Regions from separate parts of the Homo sapiens genome. Here region 1 is linked to region 2. A link means that fine-mapping ties the variant in region 2 to the expression of a gene that starts in the linked region. Tissue or cell type: T cells. Region 2 holds a variant in brackets; the other region holds the start of a gene. All regions are shown on one strand. Distances are from middle to middle.

Region 1 (10,515 bases), 39 kb before region 2:
CTTCCACCTCCCAGCCGCCTGCCTTGGCCTCCCAAAGTGCCGAGATTGCAGCCTCTGCCCGGCCGCCACCCCATCTGGGAAGTGAGGAGCGTCTCTGCCTGGCCACCCATCGTCTGGGATGTGAGGAGCCCCTCTGCCTGGCTGCCCAGTCTGGAAAGTGAGGAGTGTCTCTGCCTGGCCGCCCATCGTCTGGGATGTGAGGAGCCCCTCTGCCTGGCTGCCCAGTCTGGAAAGTGAGGAGCGTCTCTGCCCGGCCGCCACCCCGTCTGGGAAGTGAGGAGCGTCTCTGCCCGGCCGCCCATCGTCTGGGATGTGAGGACCCCCTCTGCCTGGCTGCCCAGTCTGGAAAGTGAGGAGCGCCTCTTCCTGGCCGCCATCCCATCTAGGCAGTGAGGAGCATCTCTGCCCGGCCGCCCATCGTCTGAGATGTGGGGAGCGTCTCTGCCCCGCCGCCCCATCTGGGATGTGAGGAGCGTCTCCGCCCGGCAGCCACCCCGTCCGGGAGGGAGGTGGGGGGGTCAGCCCCTGCCCGGCCAGCCGCCCCGTCCGGGAGGTGAGGGGCGCCTCTGCCCGGCCGCCCCTACTGGGAAGTGAGGAGCCCCTCTGCCCGGCCACCACCCCGTCTGGGAGGTGTACCCAACAGCTCATTGAGAACGGGCCATGACGACAATGGCGGTTTTGTGGAATAGAAAGGGGGGAAAGGGGCGGGGAAAGATTGAGAAATCGGATGGTTGCTGTGTCTGTGTAGAAAGAAGTAGACATGGGAGACTTTTCATTTTGTTCTGTACTAAGAAAAATTCTTATGCCTTGGGATCCTGTTGATCTATGACCTTACCCCCAACCCTGTGCTCTCTGAAACATGTGCTGTGTCCACTCAGGGTTGGATGGATTAAGGGCGGTGCAAGATGTGCTTTGTTGAACAGATGCTTGAAGGCAGCATGCTCGTTGAGAGTCATCACCACTCCCTAATCTCAAGTACCCAGGGACACAAACACTCTGCCTAGGAAAACCAGAGACCTTTGTTCACTTGTTTATCTGCTGACCTTCCCTCCACTATTGTCCTATGACCCTGCCAAATCCCCCTCTGCGAGAAACACCCAAGAATGATCAATTAAAAAAAAAAAAAAATTTTTTTTAATTAGCCGGGTGTGGTGGTGCACACTTATAGTCCCGGCTACTGGACAGGCTGAGGCGGGAGCATCACTTGAGCCCAAGAGTTGGTGGTTACAGTGAGCTATGGTCGCACCACTGCCCTCCAGCCTGGGTGACAGTGTGAGACTCCACCTCAAAAATGAATAAATAAATAAATAAATAAATAAATAATAAACCTCAGGGAACTCTGCTGCAGACCTCCAATGAGAAGGCCACTTATAAAGGTGGCAACAAGTTTAGGAGAAAGAAAACCCACCCAGCTGGGCGTGGTGGCTCATGCCTATAATCCCAGCACTTTGGGAGGCTGAGGTGGGCGGATCACTTGAGGTCAGGAGTTCAAGACCAGCCTGGCCAACATGGTGAAACCCCGTCTTTACTAAAAATATGAAAATTAGCTGGGCATGGCGGCGTGCGCCTGTAATCCCAGCTTCTCGGGAGACTGAGGCACGAGAATCGCTTGAAACCCGGAGGCAGAAGTTGCAGTGAGCCGAGATCGCACCACTGCACTCCAGCCTCGGTGACAGAGTGAAACGCCATGTCAAAAAAAAAAAAAAAAAAAAAAGGAAGAAAGAAAAACCCACCCAATGTCCCAAATGCCATTAGAGAATCGAGGGAGGGTGTCAGGAAAGATACCAAATAGAAACACCTTCTTCCCTCCATTCCAGTAAGAGTTAAATGTGACTATATAAACTGAGAAAGACACCACCACTTGAAATAAGGATGTGCGATACCCAGGCTGCGGATCTTTTTACAAGAAGGAATGTGTCTGAGACTATACCTCAAAGCCACACAGGAGGATACCAGCAGTAGGCGGGACAAAAGAATTAATCCATTGGCTTTAGCCAAATTCCCACCCTCCAGCTCTGAATGATTCTGACAGGGATTCTTAGGCAAATCTCTCACTGCGTGTGAGACGTGCAGGTTGATGGGGTCTAATGGATCAGGATCCAAGCCTGGAGGGAGGACGCCTTGGTGCACGCTGGAGTTCTCAAGATCACAACTGAGCTGATGCCAACAGATCTCAGAGCCCTGGAAGTCACGGGACACTCCTCTCAGACCCGTGGGCATTCGTATACAATCACATGTATTTACATATGTGGGACTAGCCTCCAATGCAGTTTACAAAGTGCTATAGAGATAATACTTGCTTTATGCAAAAGTTGTTTCTGCATTTGGCCTTGGCCAAACCTCCCTGGGGATTTAAGAGCTGCATTCCACTCCACTTACAGGTTTTACACAAAGACAAGAGAACCATGGGCCACCCCAGTTCAAGCGCATCTGACTGGGCTGGGCAACACACCCACATCCCCCAGTCCTGGGCTACCTCACAAAGAGGGGGAACAAGACCTCTCCTGAGGGCTACCCCAGAACCCTGAAGTCCACCAGGGTGGATCTGCTGACGTCCCCACCCAGGGCACACCATGGGGGTGGGTGTGGGGAGAGGGGCAGGTCTGGACGAGGCCGGTGATTCAGACCGAGCAGGGCTCCAGGAGAGCTGCCAAGTCCCGCGGGGGCCGTCCTAAGAAACGTAGTAGCCGGGCAACCCTGCCTGCCAGCCGCCTGCGCTCAGGCGCCTTCGGATGACCCGAAGCCACCTCGAGAGTTTGCACCTGGATCCCACGGTCACTACTCAGGCTACGACCTGACCTGGGCAAAACCGCACCAGGCGGCTCCCTGTCCAGCCCATGGGAGCCGGGGCGCATTACCTGGAGAGGCAGCGTCGCCCCTCTGCGCTGCCCACCCGCCCTTTTCCGCGGCGGCGCTCCGCAGCTGAGGTGGAGCTCGAGGTAACCCTCTCCCAAGCGATCGCTGGTGGCGGGGGCGGCGACCGGCGGGGCGGGGCAGGGTACTGCCAGCCAATTCCGAGCACCGGGGGGTGCGTGCGCCCGGGGCGCGTGGAGCAGCGCCAACCGTGCACTCACCAACCCACCGACCCTCCCCAAAGCCGGGGACACAGGCGTGGCTCCAGGTGGCTCTCCTGGCGCCCCCAGCACGGGCGCCCCCATGGCACTGGAGATGCACGGAAGAGAGAGAAGGAGAGAGAAAGAGATAAAAGCAGAAAGAAACAGTGGGAGAGGAAGGAGGTAGAAACAGAGAAAAACAGAGACATATATATCGAAAGAGAAAACAGGACAGAGAAATAGGTTATTAAGTGAAGCGAGGGGATAGGAATGCATAGCAAGGCGGGAGAGGAGATGGAAACATGCAGAGAGAGGAGATCCGGACGGTGAAAAGGGGCGGAGGCGCGAGCGGCCGGGTCCCTGGGCTGCGCTCCGGCGACGGCCGCCCGAGACGGGTGTCGAGGACAGGGATCGCGGAGGATGTGGATCCCCTCCCTGGCCTGCCCAGGCGCGCGCGTCCCTCCGTCTCGGGGTACGCAGCCCGGCCGGGCGCACTCGCCGTTTCCGGGCCGGCGGGGCAGCCACCGGGACAAGGGCCACAGCGCCCCCGCCGCCCGGCCAAGGACGCGCAGCCCGCGCCTCCGCCCCGCCCCGCCGGCGCGACCCGCACGGGCGCGCCCCCCGCAGAGGGGCGTCGGCACAAAGCCGCCCCACACAATGGCCCGGCCCGGCGCAGCCCGCCCTGCAACCCGGCTCCGCGCAGCTGCACTCACATCTGGGCAACGAGGGCCTGTGGTCCACGGGCACCCAGATCTTCTGCACTCGGCTCTGCGTCAGTTCCAACGGCATCTTCGCGGCTGCGCCCGACGGCCCGCCTCCCGGGGCCGAGATCCCGACGCTGGCAGGAGAGCGGCCGCCGACCCCCGGAACAAAGGAGGAGAGGGGGGCGTGCGCCGGCGCGCGGCCGGGCGTTTCCTGCGCTGCCAGGGGAAACGTGCTTTGGGCTAAGTTCCGGACCCTCGCCTGTGCGGGGCTCGACGTGTGCTGCGAGGGTAGCGAGGCTGGGGATGCCCGGCACGGCCGGCTCGTCCGCTCGGAAAGCTCTGGGATGCTCGGGCGCAGTGACAGCCGCGCTCTCGCCACCAGGCCCTGCTGCTCGCCTCCTCTCCGGCTTGGCTGGGATGCCCCGCGCACCGCCGGCTTTTAAAGAGTCCGGGCTGGCCGCAGACGCGTACGTCAGCCTCGGGGCGGGCCGCATTCCTTGGGTCCCAGCCCCCTTCCACGTGGGGAGGAGGGTGGGCGAGCCGGGAAGCAGCCTGCGAGCTCCCCCTGCGGGCCGGCGACGGCGGTGCACCAGCTCCCGCCGCCCTGCCCCGGGCCTGGAGCGCGCCCAGCCCTGCTGAAGGGTCCTGGCTGCTGTTATCCCCTCGTCCCGTTGTCCCCTCGGGACGTCTGGCACAGCTTCCCCGACTAATTCCGGCCCCTCACCTCAACTGTGCTGGCCGGGAGGAGAGCAGAGACGCAGTCCTGCCCAGTGTAGACCGTGGACCCCGCAGCCGAATCCCTTGGGAAGCTGCTTAAAGTGCATCCTACCAATGCAGCTCCTTTAGGGCCATGGAGCCCCAATACTCTGCATTCCTAACACGCGCTGTGGGGCAGGCGCAGTCCAGGTAAGGACATGGGCCAGGCTGCTCCCTGATAATACCCGTGAGCCCATCCCCCGCCACGACCCGGGCGACCCGCGGGGAGGAGGCTTCCCTGATCCTCCCACCTCACCTCGTCCTTGTCCACTTTGCTGAATCCCTTAGAAACCTGGACTTGAACTGAGCCTTGCTCCCCTCCCCTAGCCCAAAGACTGGGAACCTTGAGAGGCCCGCGGTGCTGGGTACGAGGAGGGGGCGGGAAAGCCCCGGGGAGCTGGACTGAAGTGGACTGGGGCTGGGGGCAGCTGGCATCTGGTTTTCACACTCACCATGTACACCATTCAATAAACCTTTATCGCCCCGAGTAGAAGAATGAATAAAACTAGACCCATTTCGATCTGCAATTCATTACCTAAGTCGAGGGAAAACTATTGGGGGCGGCCCCTTATTAGGCAGACTCCTAAAATTCACTCCGTTATCCTGCACACCCTGCAGCTCTGCCTCCCCACTTTTTGGTGCATGCGTGCCCCGTCTCCTTTCCCGGCCCTCGCAGTTTGCACCAGCTCGCGACTTGTGACAGTCGTGCAGTCAGGTCAGAGGCGTGCGGGGAAGATCTGGGTTGCTTTTGGTGGGGAACCGCCGCCCGCGCCGGGACGGATGTAACTTTTGCAAACGAAGCCTCAGTACGGGAGCGCTGCGCCGCCTTGCAGAGAGGTGCACACTTAGCGCTGAGGCTGGGCTGTGATTGGAGGGAAGGCGGCGCTCGCTGAAACCTACACCGCGGCGGAAAAGTCTGCGCAGAGGCTGCCACACGTCGCTCACGTCCCGCATGCTCCACAGGGAGGGCGCCCGCGCCCAGGCGGCGACCGGGGCTGCTCCCGCCCCGCGCGCCCGCCCCACCCGGGCCTCCACTCCTCCCGACCCGCCGCCTGCCGAGGGGCCCCGGAACGCGCAACATCGGCCACCTGGCCTGTGCCCCGCCACCCTCCCCCACGCCTCGACCCCCACTCCCCCTCCCGCCTCGACCCCCACTCCGGCACCCCGCCCCCCGCGCCGCCCTCTCAGAGCCCCTGTTCCCGCGACAGCTTTGCTGACGGTCTGGTTTCCGCGCTCTGGCGGCTGTTCAGAAACCCGATGCGTTGCATTTGGACTTGTTTTCTGCAGTGGGAGCACATGCCAGAGGCGACACCCTAAACGCCCAGGGGAGAGTCCCACTCCACTCCTGAAATAAGAGTGGGCTGACCCGAAGAGGGAAACAGCAGGCAGCGAGCGCCCGCGCCACCGGGACGAGTTCCCGCCCTGGGGTTCGCGGGGGTCGGGGAGGGCTGTAGGCTGCGCGCGGGGAGAGCGGCTGCACCCCTGCAAAGAGCGCCCGCGGTTCCTGGGGAATGACGGTGCACCTGCGCGCCCGCTGCTTGCCCACCGATTTTGCACACGTACAGGCGAGGCAAGCGGACCAGGGGGCCTTCTTCCACACTCCCTACAAGCTTGCAAACACTGCTGGTTTCAGCTCACAGGGAGAGCAGAGAGACGGCGTCTGCCCCAGCAGCGGCACATCATTCATCTCTTGACCTAGATAACGCATCTGACAGCGGTCAGCTCTTAGGGCACAGGGAGTTGATGTCCCGGAGGTCCAGCTGAACTTTCGCAGACCGGGCACTTTTCCTGTCTGTCAATAACGCGTTCCGAGTCTAGAGGGAAGACTATGTTCTTCCCCCATTCGCCTCCTGCACTTGCTCTGCAGCAGGCAAAAGGAAGTTAACTCAATCCCCGCCCCACCACCACCCCCCGCCCCCCCCCCCCCCCCGCTCCTTACATCTAAGTGCAAACTGGGAGTGCGTGGGAGCAAGGACGAATGCACACCTGTTTTTGTTTTTTTAATGGCCAGCTAGAACTCCTGGCAGCCTTTACAGCCCCAGGTAAGTTAGGGTAGAGCCCTCATGAGAGATGAAACTGCTTCACTACAAAATCACTTATAAACAACCCAACTGCAACTGTATTCTGGTAATTTACTGGTTCCGAGTTTACTAGTTTGGACATCCTCCTAACTCATTCCCTAGCTCTGCTAATGCCCCATCTTCACCCCAAATGTCCAACTAGGGCTTGGCCAACTTCCCTCCTACTAACCTGGGTATCACAAAGGCGGCCCTTCAGAAAACGCTCCCAATAACGTAAATGTTCCTCTAATACGATGATTCTTTTACAGCTACAATAACACCAAGGCTAGCGCAGATTGATGATTTCTCCTAGGTCGTGGTCCTAGAAACTATGAAAGATAGAAGGAAACTTCAAGACTACCTAGTCAACCCCACTTGCTTTATGGGAAGAAGTAAAGGGAGTTGAGATTAGAGTAGTCAAGGAACCAGGTCAGAGATCAAAGAAGAAAGCCAATTAGGAGCAGAGTTTGCTGGGGTTTTTGTTGGTTTTGTTGGTTTGTTTTTGTTTTTCCCTTCTGCTTGACACGGACGCAGATAGCTAGCTCCCTAGGAGACTCATTATAGGGCCACCCTAACCCCAGGGTGCTGAGTGGAATCCTAATTTAGCCGCTGATCAGGCTGTGATTCAGACTCACCTAGAACAATTGAGCTGTTTGGGAAGGAAAGGTCAGAGAAGGACCTTCCGTGAGTAGAATGAGACATTAGCAGGGCAATTATTGAAAATGATCCTGGCCAGTGCAGTGGTTCGCACCTGTAATCCCAGCACTTTGGGTGGCTCAGGCGGACGGATTGCTTGAGCTCAGGAGTTAAGAGACCAGCCTGGGCAACATGAAACCCCATCTCTGCAAAAAAAAAAAAAAAAAAAAAAAAATTTAAAAATAGCTGGGCATGGTGGCTCGCACCTGTGGTCCCAGTTATTTTGGAGACTGAGGTGGGAGGATCACCTGAGCCCAGGAGGCAGAGGTTGCAGTGAGCTGTGATTGCACCATTGCACTCCAGCCTGGGTGACAGAGTGAGACCCTGTCACAAAAAAAGAAAAAAAAAAAAGCAAGTGCCTGGTGAGGTGCTCACATAGCTGAATTCACTGAGCTCGGTCCAGCCTTGAGAGGACAGTGGAGTGGTTTTTCTCCAGGATCACCTTTGTTCCCACACTTCTGTGCCAGCCAATGTCATCTAACTCCTACCAGTGCTTCCAAATGCTGCTGTAACAACAAACACAAGCAACCGCATTTCCGTGATCCTGTGCCAGCCATAGCCAGGTTAAAACGTTCAAACCAAGCTAGGACCTACCCGCTGCCCCAGAGAGAGTGAGGTGACAAGCATGGTAGTCTGGGAGCAATCAGAAGTTGCTCATTAGACACCAAGTGTCACTATTTGCTCTTGAGAAAAATCCCATGTATGAGGGAGAGAAGTGAGACACCAAACAAAACACTGAAACAAACCCTTCCATCATCACCAGCCAAAGACACGGGGAGGGGGCTCTTATTTCAATAAATTATTTGTAACTCACACATGATTGAGAACAGAGACTGAGACTATCCACACAATGTCATGTTGGGGGTTCGAAAAACCAATTCATAACATGCACATAGATGTTTATACCAGCTTTATTGGTAATTGTTAAAATATGGAAACAACCAAGATGTCCTTTGGTAGGTAAATGGATAAACTATGGAACATCCAAACAATGGAATATGATGCCGTTCTAAAGAGAAATGAGCTATCAAGTCATGAAAAGACATGGAGAGGCCAGGTGTGGTGGCTCACGCCTGTAATCCCAGTACTTTGGGAGGCCAAGGCGGGCAGATCACTTGAGGTCAGGAGTTCGAGACCAGCCTGGCCAACATGGCAAAACCTCGTCTTTACTAAAAATACAAAAATTAGCTGGGTGTGGTGGTACACACCTGTAATCCCAGCTACTCGGGAGGCTGAGGCACAAGAATCACTTGAACCCAGGAGGTGGAGGTTGCAGTGAGCCAAGATTGTGCCACTGCACTCCAGCCTGAGTGACAGAGCGAGACTCTGTCTCAAAAAAAATTATTATTTTTCTACAAATATCATATATTTTTCTCCAATCTAGTGGACTTAGTGTCTCATTAAGTGGATGTGAGGAGAATACACAGCAGCCATAGCCTGGCTCTGGGTGAAGTGACTCAAATTGCTCAACTTAAGTCCCGGCAAACCCTCCAGTAAGTTTCCATTTCTCTCTGCCCCGACCCTGTCACTCCATCTCCTGTGGGCATTTCCTTTTCTTTTCTTTTCTTTTTCTTTTTTTTTTTTTTTTGAGACGGAGTCTCATGCTATCACCCTGGTTGGAGTGCAGTGGTACCATCTCGGCTTACTGCCACCTCCGCCTCTCAGGTTCAAGCGATTCTCCTGCCTCAGCCTCCTGAGTAACTGGTATTACAGGCTTGTGCCACCATGCTTGGCTAATTTTTTTTGTATCTTTAGTAGAGACAGCATTTCACCATGTTGGCCAGTCTGGTCTTGAACTCCTGACCTCAGATGATTTATCTAAGTAAATTGTTCCAGAAAATAGAAAAGAATAAAAGCAACTCTAGTCATTTCTGAGGCTAGCATAACCTTGATTGGTAAAACAAAAAGTAAAAGAAAAGGAAATTTTAAGTTCATTTTATTTATGACAGACAGAGATATAAGATTCCTATGTAAAATATTAGATCGTGAGAGCCAACCATATACAGTTGACCTTGAACAACACATTTGAATCACACAGGTACACCTACTTTCTCCTGCCTCTGCCACCCCTGAGACAGCAAGACCAGCCCCCTCTTCCTCCTTCCCAGTCTACTCAACATGAAGACGACAGAGAGGAAGACCTTTATGAGGATTCACTTCCACTTAAGGAATAATGAATATGTTTTATCTTCCTTAAAAAAAAAATAAAAGATGTGGAGGATGGCTTGAGCTTTTTGTGTATTTCTCAAAAGTTTTAAGATGTCCTAATTTATTGGTCAAGCAAAAGAAGAAGAAAAGAAATACAGTCATGTGTTGGCTAATGATGGGGATATGTTCTGAGAAATGCATCACTAAGCAATTCCGTCATTGTGCAAACATCACAGAGTGAACTTACACAAACCTAGATGGCAGAGCCTACTACACATCTAGGTTACATGGTATAGCCTGTTGCTCCTAGGGTACAAACCTGTACAGCATGTGACTCTACAGAATACTGTAGGCAACTGTAACACAATGGTAGGTATTTGTATATCTAAACATAGAAAATGTACTGTAAGGCCAGGTGCTGTGGCTCACACCTGTAATCCTAGAACTTTGAGAAGCCGAGGTGGGTGGATCATCTGAGTTCAGGAGTTCGAGACCAGCCTGACCAACATGGTAAAACTACTAAAAGTACAAAAATTAGCTGGGCATGGTGGCGGGGACCTATAATCCTAGCTACTTGGGAGGCTGAGGCAGGACAATCGCTTGAACCTGGGAGGCAGAGGCTGCAGTGAGCCGAGATCACGCCATTGCACTCCAGCCTGGGGGACAGAGCAAGACTCTGTCTCAAAAATAATAATAATAATAATAATAAGTACAGTAAAAATGCAGTATAAAAGATTAAAACAAGCCAGGTACAGTGGCTCAGGCCTGTAATCCCAGCACTTTGGGAGCGTGACGGGGGGAGGATTGCTTAAGGACAGGAATTTGAGACCAGCCTGGGCAACATAGCAAGACTCCATCTGTGATGGTGAATACTGAGTGTCAAGATGATTGGATTGAAAAATCCTGGGTGTGTCTGTGAGGGTGTTGCCAAAGGAGATTAACATTTGAGTGAGTGGACTGGGAGAGGCAGACCCACCCTCCGTCTGGGTGGACACCATCTAATCAGCTGCCAGCAGGGCCCGAACAAAAGCAGGCAGAAGACCGTGGAAAGACTAGACTGGCTTAGTCTCTGCGCCTACATCTTTCTCCTGTGCTGAA
Region 2 (10,515 bases):
CTGAAGCCACCGTTCTGCCTCGCTCACTGGCATCCTCAGCCTCCAGCCTGAGGCAGGACATTCTAGGACAGCTGATGAATACAAGCATGGTCAGTGTGGGTGGCCAGGGCCCTCGCTCAGCAAGTGGGAGCAAAGTGGAGGATTCCAGGACTCACTACCTCATGATCTTCCACCAGCCTCCCACTACCTCTAGTCACCCCTACCTAAGCTGCCCCTCTGTATGAAAATGCTGGGGTTGGAGAGTGGGGCAGGCTAGGGAAAGAAGACAATGTGATTTAACCTGTCCCTAAATGGTTAGATAGCATCTCTGGAGTTAAAGATCTCAGCTATCAGTTAAAATGCAAACTGAGCTACTATCTGTCATTTAGAGATGACGCAGATGAAGAAGCTGAGGATGTGACCTAGAAAAAAGCAGGAACGACCTAGGGACTTAGCAAGGGACAAAGGACCAGAAACAGGCAAAGAGAAACAAAATTTAACCTTCTCTACAGTGTCGCTTAGGGCTGGGCTGGCTATCTCCATAGATATCCAATTCCTTAACACCTAAGGGCGTAGGAGAGGAATGAGACCAAGGTTTAGGATGAATAATCTAGGAAATCCCTTGAAAGGAAGAAAAGAGGATCATCAGAGACATCTTCTGGAGCTCCACAAACTGCTCAGAGCAGAGAGGCCACCAGATACGAATGCTGCCTCAGATAATCCAATGGAGGAAGAGGGTTTGGCTGGTATTTTCTGGCTGAGTTCTTGATAAGAAACTGTAATCACATCTGCTAGCTAGGGATCCAAGAAAAACAAGATATTGTCTCTTTATACACATTCCACAGCCCCTACCTTCTCTCAAGAGATGTTAAAATGGCTTAAAATGTGTTAAAATGTGACAATTTAATAAATGTGGCAGAAACAAAAAAGAGACTCCTAAAGTATTCCTCTCTTCAGAGAGTATGAAGCTATTAATTCAGCAAATGAATCCAGGAGCTCAGAAAGGGTTACCCCGTTATGCATCCTCACTACAGACTCAGTATCAGACAGACACTGAGGACCGCAGAGCTGAATGAGACCCGCACAGGCGTTTTCCTCCCGACTTCTCAGAGGACTGTACCTGGTACCACCTGGAGGGCTGAAACGTACTCAGGTAAAAGTTACTCACTCCTCCAGTCCTCAGCTCTTCCTGTGTGAGTCCCATGCTGGCCTTGTCTAGGCACATGGGGTGGAGGGGAGGAGTGTCAGATTTGCAAAAAAGAAAGGCTAGGAGGCCAGGCAAGGTGGCTCACGCCTGTAATCCCAGCACTTTGGGAGGCCGAGGCGGGCCCATCACCTGAGATGGGGAGTTCCTGACCAACATGGAGAAACTCCATCTCCACTGAAAATACAAAATTAGCAGGGCATGGTGGTGCATGCCTGTAATCCCAGCTACTCGGGAGGCTGAGACAGGAGAATTGCTTTAAACTGGGAGGCAGAGGTTTCGGTGAGCTGAGATCGCACCATTGCACTCTAGCCTAGGCAACAAGAGCCAAACTCTGTCTCAAATAAAAAAAAAAAAAAAAAAAAAGAAGAAGAAGGGCTAGGAGAAGTGGGAAAGGTGGACTGCAGTGGAATACTGTGACCACATTTGTTAAACTCAAAGTCATGATTATTCTTCTAGCAAGTCCAAGGGCACCTGGGCCCCTTGTTAAAGGGGCAATGGGCCGAAACAGGTGCTACTCAAGATCCGACTTGCGGTGAGATGGGAGGCTGCCTCCGTCTGAGAGAAGCCCTGGCATTCTCCTCTGACCAGCGACAATCTCCCTCTTCCCCTGAGGTAGACAATGACAAAGCTCAACAGGGCTGGGCAAACCCTCCAGTCCAAAGAAATCAATCAATACACAAACACTTTATTACTTCATGAATAACTGCAACATCATTGTTCACAAAGGAACCCATTCCACTAAAATAGATGCATTGAGTGGAAGGAGGAAGAGGCTCAGAAAAAAAAAAATACTAAGCCGGGCGGTGGCTCATGTCTGTAATCCCAGCACTTTGGGAGCCTAAGGCGGGTGGATCACTTGAGGTCAGTAGTTTGAGACCAACCTGGCCAAAATGACGAAACCCCATCTCTACCACGGTAGCTCACACCTTAATCCCAGCACTCTGGGAGACCGAGGCGGGCGGATCACCTGAGCTCAGGTGTTCGAGGCCAGCCTGGCCAACATGGAGAAAGCCTATCTCTACTAAAAATCACAAAAATTAGCTGGGCGTGGTGGCGGGGCACCTGTAATCCCAGCTACTGGGGAGGCTGAAGCAGGAGAATCGCTTGAACCCAGGAGGCGGAAGTTGCAGTGAGCCGGGATCGTGCCACTGCACTCCAGCCTGGATGACAGAGTGAGACTTCGTCTCAAAAAAAAAAAAAAAAAAAGTTGAGCCTGGTGATCCACGCCTGTAATCCCAGCTACTCACGAGGCTGAGGGAAGAGAATCGCTTGAACCCGGGAGGCAGAGGTTGCAGTGAGCGGAGATAGCACCACTGCACTTCAGTCTGGGCGACAGAGTGAGGTTCTGTCTCAAAAAAAAAAACAAAGACAAAGAAAAAAGAAAATAAAATACTGGGTACTAGGCTTATACCTAGGTGATGAAATAATCTACAACAAACGAGTTTACTTATATAACAAACCTGCACATGTACCTCTGAACTAAAACATTTACAAAAAAATAGACGCATCGAGAAAAGGCAAGGGCTTTGGAGTCTGGCAGATGAGAACTTGCATCTGAGCTCCACTATTCTCCCACTAACATAGGTAAACATCTGGCTCCTGCAAAGAACGCCAGACATGTTCATCCCTGCCGGCTCTGTGTAACTGACCTGAAATTCTCCACCTGGGAAAATCTGTTTTGTGCCCCCAGGGAGAAGGAAAGTCTAGCCTCTTCCTCATAAGGAAGTTGTGGGGAAAAGAGAGATCAGATTGTTACTGTGTCTATGCAGAAAAGGAAGACGCAAGAAACTCCATTTTGATCTATACTAAGAAAAATTGTTTCTGCTTTGAGATGCTGTTAACCTGTAACTGTAGCCCCAACCCTATGCTCACAGAAACATGTGCTGTATTGAATCAAGGTTTAATGGATTCAGGGCCGTGCAGGATGTGCCTTGTTAACAATATGTTTGCAGGCAGTATGCTTGGTAAAAGTCATCGCCATTCTCCATTCTCGATTAACCAGGGACACCATGCACTGCAGAAGGCTGCAGGGACCTCTGCCCAAGAAAGCCTGGGTATTGTCCAAGGTTTCCCCCCACTGAGACAGCCTGAGATATGGCCTCCTGGGAAGGGAAAGACCTGACCGTGCCCCAGCCAGACACCCGTAAAGGGTCTGTACTGAGAAGTAGTGAAAGAGAGGGGGCCTCTTTGCAGTTGAGATAAGAGGAAGCCTTCTGTCTCCTGCTCATCCCTGGGAATGGAATGTCTCGGTGTAAAGCAGACCAATCCCATTCGTTCTATTCTGAGATAGGAGAAAACCGCCCTGTGGCTGTAGGCGATATGCTGGCAGCAATACTGCTCTGTTACTCTTTGCTACACTGAGATGTCTGAGTAAAGGGAAACATAAACTTAGCCTATGTGCACATCAGGGCACAGTACCTTTCCTTGAACTTATTCATGATACAGATTCCTTTGCTCACATGTTTCCCTGCTGACCTTCTCCCCACCTGTTGCCCTGCTACACTCCCCTCGCCAAGATAGTAAAAATAATGATCAATACTGAGGGAACTCAGAGACGGCCACCAGTGCGGGTCCTTCGTATGCTGAGTGCCAGTCCCCTGGGCCCACTGTTCTTTATACTTTGTGTCTTATTTCTTTTCTCAGTATCTCCTCCCACCTGACGAGAAACACCCACAGGTGTGGAGGGGCTGGCCCCCTTCAGAAGTCTTTCAAATACTTCCAGACAGGGGTCAAGTGTGCCCAGTCCTGCCATGTCTGGGTTAAACATCCCCAATTCTTCAACCATGCCTCCTGTGACTTATTTCCTGACCCTTCACCCGCTCACTCACTCTCCCCAAATTCACCGCAGGCCCTGTTCATGAAGATTCGGATGGAGCCACAGACCCAACGCATACGAGGTCCTCAGGGAGTCTGTGTCCCACACTGGGGGCTAGGAGCGGTCCCCGGGTGCTCACTGGCGGCGCCTCCACCGCGGACCTGCCCCAGCCCCGCATCCACGCGCGGGGTGGGGTGGGCCGCCCACTTCTCCCGCGCCCTCAACCCACAGGGAAACGGGCTGCGCGCCCGGGCCGCCCCGCAGAGTCCAGATGCCTAAATCCCTCCTAGTCTGTTTCCTCATCTGCGGCCTGCACGCCCGCCGCAGCCACACCCAACGCCGGGACGCGCAAAAACACCTGCCGGGCCTATTTCCTCTCGGGTATTATTTACAGCCGCTCCCAGGCCTTC[T/A]CGGAAAACATCCTTTGCCGGAAACACAACCCCAGGTCCCCAGAGCGTAGGGGGCCCAGCGCCGGATCCACGCGGAGCTCACGAGCCGGACAGTCGCCGCAGAGCAGGCTGGGGCCGCGCGGCGCACGCCGGGAGGGCGCGCGACAGCACGTGAACGCGGCGTGCCGCACGGCCCGGGAAGGGCGGGGTGCGCGCTGACCGGCTCGTGCGCCGCAGGCAGCAGCCAATCCGCGCGGACCACCCCCAGGCCCCGCCCCCGCCGGTCCCGCCACGCCCCCGTCGGGCCCGCAGCTGCTCCCGGGGCCCGGGACCCAGCTGGCTTAGGCGCCCGAGGTGCACCTGGGAGGAAGCAGGCGCGGGGTGCAATGGAGGGTGGAGGCGCGCACCGTGCCCAGAGCGGGGCTCCCGGGAGCTGATGTCCCGTCTGGCCCCCCTACCTCCCAGCTGGGTCCCCACCTACCCGCCCTGTCTTACCGCCCTCAGCACAGGGACCTGCCTCTGTCCCCACGACGCCAGGCTCCAGGTGTATCTAGGACTAAAGAGTTGACATCCAGTCTATATAGGGTTGTGGGGGGTTACCTTAAAAGTTCCTTTTTGTTATTAAAAAAAGTAATATACACTTGTGCAGTGATTGAGAACAATAGAGGGAGGGAACATAAAATATTCGTGATGGAGTTCCCTTCCAGACTTCCCGTCTCTGGAGATATTTTCTTAAGCCCCAGGAGGCTTGGTCTTGGCCCCCACCTCTGCATTGAATGTCTGATCTCCCTCAACTCGGTGTCATCACACATGGGATAGGGGTCAGAGGTTATCACGAGGAATTTTATGTTGCTAATGAGTACAGCCAGTAGCAAAGGAGATTCAAGATGAAGACAACATTCCTGGGGAAAACACAGAAAGCAAATGAAAGATACAATTATGGGACGGGGGAAGGAGAGGAAGAACTCTGTGCTGCTGGACTGGAATAACTGATCCGTTTGAATTTACAATTTTAAAATGTTTCCCAGCTCCATCCATGAAAAACGCCCTGGAAACACGGACACTCCGGTAGCAAGAAGAGGCACACAAAAGCCCAGATCCAGCCTTCTAAGGACCATCCTCCACTGAAAGTACCCAGGGATCCTTGGAGGAGTGGCTGCTCCCAAGGCCGAGACTGGGAAGGACACAAGGAGCCTGGAACAGGAGTTAAGACAGAGCTCAAAAGCTGAAGGGGGCGTGTCAAGGACACAGCAGCCAGCCTGAAAGGGTTCTCACCCAAACTGGGAGTGGCTTGAGCATCAATTGAGTATGTCAGGAATGGATTCTAACACATGCAGTCATAATTTTAAAAATCCCGGAGTCCACATTGGTACTATTACTACTATTAATAATGATGATGAAATTAAAGCTAGTAAAAGGGAGGATGGGCAGGAAAGAGCTTCTTTACAAAAGAATGCCAACTAATAAATGTGGAAAGAATGACAAAAATGGTAAATAGCCATTTTACGGACACTCTGATAAGTGTTTCACTCAAGAATCATCAATAGATGCTAAAGCTATGAAATAAAAGATTATTCCTTGTATATACACACCCCAAAGAATTGAAAGCAAGGTTTCAAAGAGATGTTTGTAGACCCATGTTCGCAGCAGCATTATTGACAACAGCCAGAAGGTAGAGTAATCCATGTGTCCAACAACAGATGAATGGATACACAAAATGTGACTAAACACACAGAACATTACTCCGCCTCCAAAAAGATGGAAATTCTGACCCATGCTACAACGTGGATGAGCCGTGAGCACTTGATGCTAAGTGAAATAGGCCAGGCACAAACAGACAAATGTTGTAAGATTCCACTCACATGAGTTCCCTAGAATAGTCAGATTCAGAGACAGAAAGAATGGTGGCTGCCAGGAGCTGGGGATTGTGAAGAATGAGAGTTATTGTTTAATGGGTGCAGAGTTTCAGTCTTGCAGGATGAAAAAGTTCTAGAGATGGTTGGTGGTGATGGTTGTACAACACTGAATATATTTAACACCACTGAGCTGTATACTTAAAAATGTTGAAGATGGTAAATTATAAGTGTATTTACCACAATTAAAAATGTTTACATTAGAAATTAAAGGCCACCCTGGGCAACATAGTGAAACCCTGTTTCTACAAAATTAAAAATTAAAAAATTAGCCAGGCATGGTGGCACCCTCCTGTAATCCCACCCACTCGGGAGGCTGAGGTGGGAGGATCGCTTGAGCCCAGGAATTCTAGACAACAGCAAGTCCTGATGGCACCACTGCACTCCAGCCTGGGTGACAAAGTGAGATTCTCTCTCTCTCTCTCTCTCTATATATATATATGTGTGTGTGTGTATATATATGTGTGTGTGTATATATATATGTGTGTGTGTATATATATACATATGTGTGTATATATATACATATGTGTGTATATATCTATGACTCAAGGACATGACAAAATGAAATAAAATAATTTTTTAAATTTTTTATAAAGATTATTGGGAACAGGATATTTTATTCACACTTTGTGAGTGACTGCAAAGGATCCCTCCACAGATAACTTTTTAGTTACAAATGGGAAAAGTTACCTTTACAAATGATCCAAACAAATGGGATCCTCATATTGCTGGTAAAGAGTCACCCTATCACTGCTCCAGGCAGGGGGAACTTGCAGAGGCCCTGAGTCGTAAGTCTTGAGTGTTTGAGCAACAGAAAGAAGAGGCCAAATGAGGTCAGGCGCCGTGGCTCACACCTGTAATTCCAGCACTTTGGGAGGACAAGGCAGGTGAACCATCTGAGGTCAGGAGTTCAAGACCAGCCTGCCCAACATGGTGAAACCCCGTCTCTACTAAAAATACAAAAAGTAGCTGGGCATGGTGGCAGGCACCTGTAGTCCCAGCTACTCGGGAGTCTGAGGCAGGAGAATTGCTTGAACCCGAGAAGCGGAGGTTGCAGTGAGCCAAGATCACACCATTCCACTCCAGCCTGGGCTTCAAGAGTGAAACTCTATCTCAAAAAAATAAAAAAATAAATTAAAAAAATTTAAAAAAAGGCCAAATGCATCAAGGTTGGGAGATGACTGGAGAAGTGACCTGTCATTTCTCTTTTAACTTCTCATTTTGACGTAATTTCAAATTTAGAAAATTTTTAAGTAGTACAAAGAATCTCCATATATCTTCACTAGTTATTAACATTTTACCATATTTACCATATTTGCTTCATCCTCTTTTTTTTTTTTTTTTTTTTTGAGACAGAGTCTTGCTCTTGTCGCCCAGGCTGGAATGCAATGGCGAGATCTCAGCTCACTGCAGCCTCCACCTCCCGGGTTCAAGCAATTCTCCTGCCTCAGCCTCCTGAGTAGCTGGGATTACAGGTGCGTGCCACCATGCCCAGCTAATTTTTTTGTATTTTTAGTATACAGTGTTTCACTGTGTTTGCCAGGCTGGTCTCGAACTCCTGACTTCAGGTCATCTGCCTGCCTCAGCCTCCCAAAGTGCTGGGATTACAGGCGTGAGCCACCGCACCCAGGAAACTGCTGATCTTGTAACAGGTCAAAAGGGAACTCTTCATTCTTTCTTGCTTTCTGGACCTCAGGTAGAGAGGGTGGGAGCAATCACAGTCCTCGCCTCATCTCAGGCTCTCATCACTGATCCCTGAATGGCCCTCTTTTGTATTTGTTTGTTTAATATAACAGACAACTATGACCCCATCAGCCAATTGACATCTCAATTATTGACATTAAGTGACATGTATTTGTATATTCCCCCATCCTCTGCTTCTGCCTCCCTTCAAATGGAAGTAACCATTATCCTGAATCTTGTAAAAATACATAGTTTTATTATGTATATATTCCTAAAAAGCATTGTTTAGTTTTAGTTGTTTTAATTTTATTTTAAAAAGTATCGTAGGCCGGGCATGGTAGCTCATGCCTGTAATCTCAGCACTTTGAGAGGCTCAGGCGGGAGGATTGCTTGAGTCTAGGAGTTCAAGACCAGCCTGGGCAAGATGGCAAGACCTCGTCTCTATTAAAAAAAAAAACAATAGCCAGGCATGGTGGCACACACCTAAAGTCATAGCAACTGGGGAGGCTGAGGTGGGGGGATTGCTTGAGCCTGGCAGGTCAAAGCTGCAGTGAGTCACTGCACTCCAGCCTAGGTGACAATCCGAGACCCTGTTTCAATAAGTAAATAAATAAAAAGTACCTTACCATATGTAATGATTTTGATGTTTTTGGTTTTTGGTTTTTTGGTGTTTTGTTTTTTTTTTTTTTCCTCAGACGGAGTTTCACTCTTGTTGCCCAGGCTGGAGTGCAATGGTGTAATCTCGGCTCACCGCAACCTCCTCCTCCCGGGTTCAAGCGATTCTCCTGTCTCAGCCTCCCGGGTAACTGGGATTACAGGCATGCACCACCACACCCAGCTAATTTTTTTGTATTTTTAGTAGAGACGGGTTTCTTGACAGCTGGTCTCAAACTCCCCATCTCAGGTGATCCCCCCGCCTCAGCCTCCCAAAGTGCTGGGATTACAGGTGTGAGCCACCATGCCTGGTGCTTTTTTTTGTTTTTTTTAATTAAGACAGAGTCTCGCTCTGTTACCCAGGTTGGAGTGCAGTGGCGCGATCTCCTCTCACTGCAACCTCCACCTCCCTTGTTCAAGCGATTCTCCCTTCTCAGCCTCCCAAGTAGCTGGGATTACAGGTGCCCACCGCCACGCCTGGCTAATTTTTGTATTTCTAGTAGAAACAGGGTTTCACCATGTTGGGCAGGCTGATCTCGAACTCCTGACCTCAAGGGATCTGCCTACCTCCGTCTCTCAAAGTGCTGGGATTACAAGTGAGAGCCACAGCGCCTGGCCTGTTTTGGGATTTTTTAATAGTCATCAACAATATTGAGAGTTGCTGTCTATTTGAGTGTAGCTTATTTATAATATTGCCTTGTGTGAATATACTAAGAATAATTTATCCTCCTGTCAAAGTGCATTTGTGCTGTGTAAAGGTTTTTCTATGAGAGTGCTGCTATGAACATGATTGTGTGAACATCAGCAATACTAGGAACGGTATTGCTGGTTTCGAGTAGGTGAATTTCTTTTTTTTTTTTTGAGATGGAGTCTTGCTTTGTCACCCAGGCTAGAGAGCAGTGGCGCTGCGATTTCAGCTCACTGCAGCCTCCGCCTCTTAGGTTCAAGCGATTCTCTTGCCTCAGTCTCTGGAGTAGCTGGGACTACAGGTGTATGCCATCATGCCTGGCTGACTTTTTGTATTTTTAGTAGAGATGGGGTTTCACCATGTCGACCAGGCTGGTCTTGAACTCCTGACCTCAGGTGATCCGCCTGCCTAGGCCTCCCAAAGTGCTAGGATTACAGGCGTGAGCTACCGCACCTAGCCGAAGTATGTGAATTTCAACTTTACACCAAAGAAAAGACCAAACTGCCTCCAAGGCATTTGTACCACTTATCGGCCCACCAGCAATGTGTGAGGGGCTTTTGTGGTCCACATTCTGTCAACACTGAAAGCCATCAGGCTTCCTCATTTCTACCGGGCACACAGAGTGAAACGTGTCTTCATTTTGGTCTCAATCTGCATTTTCCTGATCACTAAAGAGGTGAAGTTTCTTTATTTCCTTTTGTTACACACTGCCTGACTTTTATTTTATTTTATCTTATTTATTTATTTATTTTTAAGATGGAGTCTTGCTCTGTCCCCCCAGGCTGGAGTGCAGTGGCGCAATCTCGGCTCACTGCAAGCTCTGCCTCCCGGGTTCACACCATTCTCCTGCCTCAGCCTCCCAAGTAGCTGGGACCACAGGCGCCCGCCACCACGCCCGGCTAATTTTTTTTTTTTATTTTTAGTAGAGGCAGGGTTTCACCATGTTAGCCAGGATGGTCTCGATCTCCTGACCTCGTGATCCACCCGTCTCGACTTCCCAAAGTGCTGGGATTACAGGCATGAACCACCGCGCCCAGCCACACTGCCTGACTTTTAAAAGGCTTTACCCGTCATTCAGTTATTTCTCACAGAAGCCAGAGAAAAGAACACAACCACAGAGAAACAATGGACTGCCTGCTTATTCAGTCAAGTCGGTTTTTCCATAACGTGGATTGGGATTTACTGTC

Evidence for each region. PIP is the estimated chance that this variant, and not a neighbour inherited with it, causes the effect.
Region 1: it holds the start of PFKFB3, and the variant in region 2 is fine-mapped to the expression of PFKFB3 in T cells (TOPMed, PIP above 0.99).

The regions. Positions count from the first base shown.
Region 1 is chr10:6,196,588-6,207,102 of GRCh38, reverse strand. It overlaps PFKFB3 (6-phosphofructo-2-kinase/fructose-2,6-biphosphatase 3), which reads right to left and starts at 4,171. Exons shown (of 15, transcript NM_004566.4): 1 at 3,767-4,171. The coding sequence starts at 3,842. It overlaps PFKFB3-AS1 (PFKFB3 antisense RNA 1), which reads left to right and starts at 4,346. Exons shown (of 2, transcript XR_007062045.1): 1 at 4,346-4,663; 2 at 9,308-9,498. RefSeq lists enhancers at 2,200-2,702, 4,442-4,946, 5,501-6,017, 6,018-6,535, silencers at 3,019-3,098, 3,329-3,838, 3,959-4,068, 4,119-4,448, 5,479-5,698 and a cis regulatory region at 3,977-4,508.
Region 2 is chr10:6,157,856-6,168,370 of GRCh38, reverse strand. It overlaps a transcript of PFKFB3 not described here. Among named protein-coding and RNA genes, the nearest start is that of MIR3155B, 11 kb to the right of the region's middle. RefSeq lists enhancers at 1,730-2,229, 3,949-4,058 and a silencer at 4,469-4,948. The variant T/A (reference allele first, on the strand shown) is at 4,412.